2 linked regions of the Homo sapiens genome follow. The protein of the gene in region 2 purifies or fractionates together with the protein of the main gene of each other region. This does not show direct contact. Each region holds a gene or a part of one and is shown on either strand. Other genes may lie near its edges.

Evidence for each region.
Region 1: the proteins of SPRR2E (region 2) and ARID3C purify together in Homo sapiens (affinity purification with mass spectrometry; one large-scale study listed by BioGRID and IntAct). This does not show direct contact.

Annotation. Positions count from the first base shown.
Region 1 is NC_000009.12:34,623,247-34,626,325, forward strand, and holds part of ARID3C (AT-rich interactive domain-containing protein 3C), read right to left. Parts: intron 2,569-3,079; coding exon 2,496-2,568; intron 802-2,495; coding exon 618-801; intron 469-617; coding exon 179-468; intron 1-178. UniProt on the Homo sapiens protein: Transcription factor involved in monocyte-to-macrophage differentiation.
Region 2 is NC_000001.11:153,092,625-153,096,048, forward strand, and holds SPRR2E (small proline-rich protein 2E), read right to left. Parts: upstream 1,903-3,424; 5' UTR 1,860-1,902; intron 1,147-1,859; 5' UTR 1,128-1,146; coding exon 909-1,127; 3' UTR 511-908; downstream 1-510. UniProt on the Homo sapiens protein: Cross-linked envelope protein of keratinocytes. It is a keratinocyte protein that first appears in the cell cytosol, but ultimately becomes cross-linked to membrane proteins by transglutaminase.

The sequences.
Region 1 (3,079 bases), on a different chromosome or scaffold from region 2:
CAAACCTCAGGACCCCTAAACCTTAGTGACCCCCAAACCTCAGAAGCCCGTCAGACCTTACTGCTCCCATACCTCAATGCCTCCCCAGACCTCAATCCTCACATTTTAATGGTTGCTATATCTTAGCGCCCACCTAAACCTCAGAGACCCCGAAACCTCTACCATTCTCCCCTCGCACCTTTCTTAATAGGGCTTGGACTCAGCTGAGCGCATGCATGCGCTGGCAGGCCGGAGGTGGAACCCTGGGCTGGGCCAGGGCTGGACTGGGTCGCCGGAGGGGCGGGGCCGGGACCCAAGGCTGGGTCCTGAGCGCCCCGAGGGGGCGGCCCTGCCAAGCCGAAGAGCGGAGTAGCGGTGTAAGCCTGGCGACGGCCCTCGCGCCGATTGCTGTCTATGGCGGCCTGGAGCTCCCCTGGGGAGCTGAGCGCTCGAGTCTCGCACTCGTACGGGTACAGGTACTTCATGTACCTAGGGGCGGACAGCGGGCGGTGAGTGTATGGGAGGCTGCACCCAGCTGGTCAAGTCCCACAGCCGGACGCCCGCCCGGGGACCCTCCCCCCTCCCGCCCCAGGCCGAACCCGTGCCCCCTTCCCTTCCGCTCCCGCCCCTGGCCTCACTGGGTGCGTAGAGTGAAGGCGGCCGAGGTGATGGTGGTGGGTAGGCTGAGGCCGCGCGTGACTTCCCGCCACACTTTGCGGTTGATGACTTCCACCAGGCCGCCCTTGGCGGTCACCAGGCGAAACAGAGCGTACAGGTCGAGCACCTGCTTCGCCATGATGGGCACGCGGTTCACTGGCGTCCCTGGTGGGGAGCGGGCTGCCGTCAGGACACTGAGACGAAGACCCTGTCTGCAGCATCCCCAGGGACTGATACAGGACGGGAGCCCCGGGGAGGGCGGGAAAGAGGGAGACTTGGGCGGAGCCCACAGAACCCCAGGGTCTCTGTTTTAGCAAGAAGGACAGGAGGCTAGAACGGGGGGGGGCAAAGTTCTGTAAAAGGCCAGATGGCTAAATGGTCTCTGTCACAACTACTCAACGCTGTCATTGTAGCCTAAAGGCGGCCATAGAGAATACCTGAAGGAATGGATGCGGCTGTGTTCCAATAATATAGACTCTGAAATTCGAATTTCACCAGTCTGGAGATGTTATTCATCTTTAAATTTTGTCCCCCAACTATTTAAACAAGTAAAAACCATTCTTATCTTGCAGGCAGCTGGGTTTGGCCTGCAAACTTTAGTTTGCTGTCCCCTGGGGTAGACCGCAGGAAGGACTTTCGGACAGTGCTGAAGAGCCGGCCTCCCCTAAGCAGCAGCCCCCGGGTGGCTGCCCAAGGCTGGGGGATGACGGGCGGGAAAAGAATCAACTCCCGCCTCGGCCCGCCGACTCCGCAGCCCGCGCCGCCCCCGCCGGCCAGTCCTGACAAAGGGGCCTGTCTGCGCTGAGCGATGGGCCCCAGTTAATTCCTTACCGATCCCGTCCCCTTCCGCCGCGCCTTTGGACCCGAACAATTAGCTGCGGCCTGATTAATGGGGGAAAATTATCGGCCCCGCGGGACCCCCTCCCCCTGCAGCTGGAGCGGTGGGAGGCAGGGACCGAAGGGAGGCAGGCAATGCTGGGATCGGTTCACACCCGCTACCCCAGTGGAGGGGAGGCCTCGAGGAAGGGCCAGAGAGGGAACACTGGAACCAGAATGGGCCTCCCTGGGAACCAAAAGGACTTAGGTCCCTACTGAGGGTCCCTGGGAAGGTAAGGGACCAGAAAGAGGTGCTGGGGTGAGGGCCGGGAGTGGGAAGTGGGCCAGCAGCTGCACTAAAGGCGGTGGGGGGGCGGGGGGTAACAGGGCAGCCAGTTAATTAGCGGCTTATCAGGCTGCGCTCTGAGTGAGTTAATTAGCTTTGCAGAGAGAGATAATGAGTCAGTGTTCGGTCCCATGAATCTGGGAAAAAGCTGAAGTGATGGACTGCCGCCCACCCTGATGCCCTCCTGGACCCTTCTTGCGTTCTCCTCCAGCTCTGACATTCCTGGAAAGGAATTTCTCCTCCTCCACAGCCTCAACTCACATAGTCCCCAGCCCACCCCTTGGGAAGTCCTTCCTTCAGTCTATTCCTAGTCCTTCCTGCTGTAGAGCACGTGAGGTGTCCCCTGCCTGAATCAAGGGAAAACAGGGAAGACATGGCTGGAGGAAGGACCCTGGACACAGAACCAAGGCATTCTCAGCCCTCTGATTCTGGGACCCTCCCACCCCAGGCCAGGCTCCCATCAGTTCCCCCTCCCACCCTCCCAATTGATCCCAAACTCATTAACCTGCCAGTGGGCTGGCCACTAATTAATCCTGGGGTGGAGGAGGGGGACAGGGTCAGAGGTTAAAGACGCTATCGAGGGCCCAAAGGACAGGTGCTGCCAAGCTCAGGCCTCAGCAGGGAGAACCCAACCGGGTTTCCTCAAACCTGGTAAGGGGGCAATTCCAGGGCCCTTCCCCCACATCATGCCACTCACCCCTCTTTTGCATGAAGCTAAACAGGTCATCCAGAAATTCCTTCCTCTTGGGGTCTGCATCGAGCTCATACAGCTGGGGAAGGATTGGGGTCATTCTACAGCTCTGCTGACTCCCCCTCCCTCCCTTGACCCCAATTCAGGTTGTACCCTGAACAAGGGTCCCTAGCTGAAGGAGTCAGTAGGATCTCAATGTGGACTCCCTGGGATTAGCATTAGGCTCTCTCCGCCTAGGGGCAGGCAGGGGTGCCTTTTTCTAGTACATACAGAGACTGGTACTGGTAGTGGTACCCTGGGCCATTCAAACCACCCATCTGGGGAGTAAGGGAAGAGAGGAACAGGATGGAGCTTGGAGGCTCAGCCTGCCCTCTGGGGCTCAGTCTTCCCCCACCCTCATGGGAAATTTAGAGCCCCAGGAAGGAAGCTAGGCTGGGGTTGTATACCAGACTGAGGAGACAAACATATATCTGATGCTCTGATTCATTCATGCAAGGACTTCATGGTGTTCACATCCCTGTATGCCAGGGCTGGGGGTGACTGAAGGGCAGAGATGCTCCTAACCCACCCCTCAGGCAGGGTGATGCTCA
Region 2 (3,424 bases):
TTTAAAAAAAAACAGAGTCTTCTTATTTTTTATATTAGTTACATCCAAGCCACTCTATTGCTGGAACAAATATGGTAGTGGTTGTCATGGGGAGTGATGATGATGATGATGATGATGGTGGTGGTGGTGGTAATGGTGGAAACAATGATGATATGTTACTGCCAATAAACTTCTAAAATGACAGCTAATTATGTGTCAGGCATTGCGACAACAAAATTTCAGATAGTAATTAGATTTATCCCAAGACTAGTTTGTTAAGTAAATGTTATTTTGGTCGCTTTGCAATAAAGAGATTGACATTCACAGAAGTTGAATAATATGTTCCTCAAATCAATCAAACACTAATTAAGGAAAATAAAAGTGGTTTAAATAATACAGACATAATCTTTGATATGACCCAAATTTTAAGATTCTGACTGTGGTTGAAAGAAAGGTGGAAATAAACCCAAATGATTATATAATTTTACTAATAAAGCAGATTTGAAAAGAAACAAAAGATCCATTCACAAATACGTATGCAAAGATATTTTATTCAGGGAGTGAAAGAAAAGTGACAATTGCACAGGTGTTAGAAGCCCATGCCCAGGTGACAGACAGACACAGAAAACATCAACAGCATTTTTTGATGGTTCCCAGGGACAGAGCTGCTGGTCCTTCTTCCAAAGCTCTGGGAACTGACACTGCTGAGGACTTCCTTTCTCAGTCTCCACCTGGACAGTGGCAATATGGCAGCCTCAGAAAGGAAACCTTTTGCTATCAGGGATCATCATGGGCAGATCACTGGCTAAGAGGAAAGAAGCTAACTGTGTATCCATGGTAGGCTTTGATGAGAAGATGCAGGTGAAGCTGTGGAACAAGGTGAGCCAATTATCCTTATCCTTTCATGCTCCTGATGAATTCTGAAGCTGTTACTTGCTCTTGGGTGGACACTTTGGCTGGCAGGGTGGGGAAGGTGTCACAGGAGGACATTTTTGCTGGCACTGCTGAGGTGGGCAGGGCTGTGGACACTTTGGTGGTGGGCAGGGCTCAGGGCACTTCGGGGGTGGACATGGCTCTGGGCACTTTGGCGTGGGGCACACAGGAGGTGGCTGGCAGGGCTGCTTGCACTGCTGCTGTTGATAAGACATCCTGCTGGAGTCTCAGAATCTGAAAGAAATGATATGACAGTGTTCACAGGAATGGACTCCTCCAGAGAGAGAAGCCAAAGCTTATGTAATACCATGGCATATTATTTCTCCAATCTCCAAAAATTTATTTAAACTCTTAGCTCTCTTTTCATGACTTCCTGTCTTCTCCTTTCCACTTTAGCAAGTTGTTTCATCAGCCCTAGGAATTCCTGCCTTTCCTCATACAATTTTTCCAAAGAAAACATCTCTATAATAAAGAAGCAAGCATGTTATTCCATGAAAATGACATCTTCAGGAAAGGCAGTCACAAGTTCAGACCTCCTGGGCAATCTCACAAGCTATTCCTATCATCATTATCTGTTGTAAAGCACCAGTGGGTTGACTTGGGCACAGAGCAAGGGCTGTTCAGGAAGAAGTACTGGCTCTCACACCTGCTAAGACACAAACCTTTGAAAAGGATACCAGGAAAATATGGAAAAGAGAAAAATACTTCATCCCTTTCTTCAAACCAAAACTTTCCTATTAACTTCTCTGTCCATATGGACATATAATTGTACATTTTTTAAAAATCTGTGTAAAACACTGTATCATGTAATCTAATCCTGTAGTTCCATCAACTAAGTACCATCAAACCTATGATCACAGGTTTGGATCCACCAAACTTGCTGGATTCAGGTTAAATTCAACACTTCAGGGCACAAAGAACAGAGGAACTCAAGGAAGCAGACTCACCAGGTTCTCCAAAGCAGATCAGTGCTCAAGTACCAGGAGTTTAGGAGTTGTAGAGCAGAGAACCTCTTTATAGGGCCTGCTACCCCACCCAGCAGGAAGTGGAACTACCCAAAACTGGGCTGGCCCAGCAATGTCCCAACTAAAATGCAAATCTATCCATAACTGGCATGACAGGGATTCTCAAACTGGGAAATATCCTGTTCTGGGATCTTTCCACTGGATTAAGTGCCCTGACTCACTGAGGCCCTGCCTTAGATCTCAGTTTCAGTGACAGCAAAGAGGGACTTGGGGGATTCTCTAACTGGTGGTCAAGGGCTCTCTTTCTTGATTGGGGGCAATGAATGCTTCCTGTCTTACACATTCCCTAAATCATAAAACTTCCTGCCCTGATCCACTTTAGCTGAATGCCATATTGTTTGTACATGAACCCATCTCCACCTCTACTTTCCTTGTACAATTTGCCAATGTGCTAGAAGGAAGGAGAGACCTAACAAAGGCCTGAGTTCTGGCCCCAGATTTTTTTGCTAAGCTGTATGACCACAGCCAGGTCAACTCTCCTCCCTGGAACTGTAAACAGAAGAGCATCTTATTTACCTCTGGGTTTGGAGGCACTGACCACATTGTGCCATCTGTTGATCCTGTTCAAGCCTGAAATTTTCTGCTCCACCTCTTTCTCTTGCAGAAACCCAGATTTTACCTATATTCCTTTCCTCTTTGAGGGTTGTCTTCTACAACCCTCAAAGAGGCACTTGTGTCCCAAGATAGATACCAGAGTGAGATCCAGTCTCTCCAGTACATTTGCCACTGCTACCATCAAGGGAGTGTACTACAGGCTTTTCATTTGTAAAACTGTACTCTTATTCACCACATTAAGAAAATGGAGAAAAGGGAACCAAAGTTACAAGCATTCATTTTAAATCTATGTATTGAACCATGCCTGTATGTTTCCCTGTGAACATCATATAGAGAACAAGATGCATAGACTCACAGTATCTTATGTAAATAATTAGAAGTTTTCCAGAATAGAGGTCAGAGCACTTAAAGTCTGAAATCTAGGGGAAAATATAAACTCAGTGTGATCCTATGTGTTTGCTTTCTCTACCTCTCTTTCCAAACAGGTTTTAGTCTTTGAAAAATGGTATTTTTTAATTTGTTTGTATGTTCTTCCATTGTCTTTTCCAAAAGCTCTCTAGCCCCACAACCTGCTAGATTATCAACTCACACCCCAATGTATACCTCTCATCTGTTCATTTTAGTACACATTGTTCACTCGATACGTATGTTGTCAATGTGAATGTCTTTCACATCTTTTTAAAACTCTTCCTGCAATCAATGGGGCTTACTAAACATTGTATATTAAACATTTAAAACAGTGCTGCTGGAGCTTTCTTATCTGGGCTAATGATCAGGAAGCTTTCCAAGAATGTGATTTTATAATTGGAGAAGAAGAAGGAAGAGGAAGATAAGGAAAAAGAGGAAGAGGAGTGACTCAAATTCTTTGGAGCACTCACCAGCTATGCTCCAGATAGAGCAAGAACACTGAATCAACCCAGCATCACATCTCT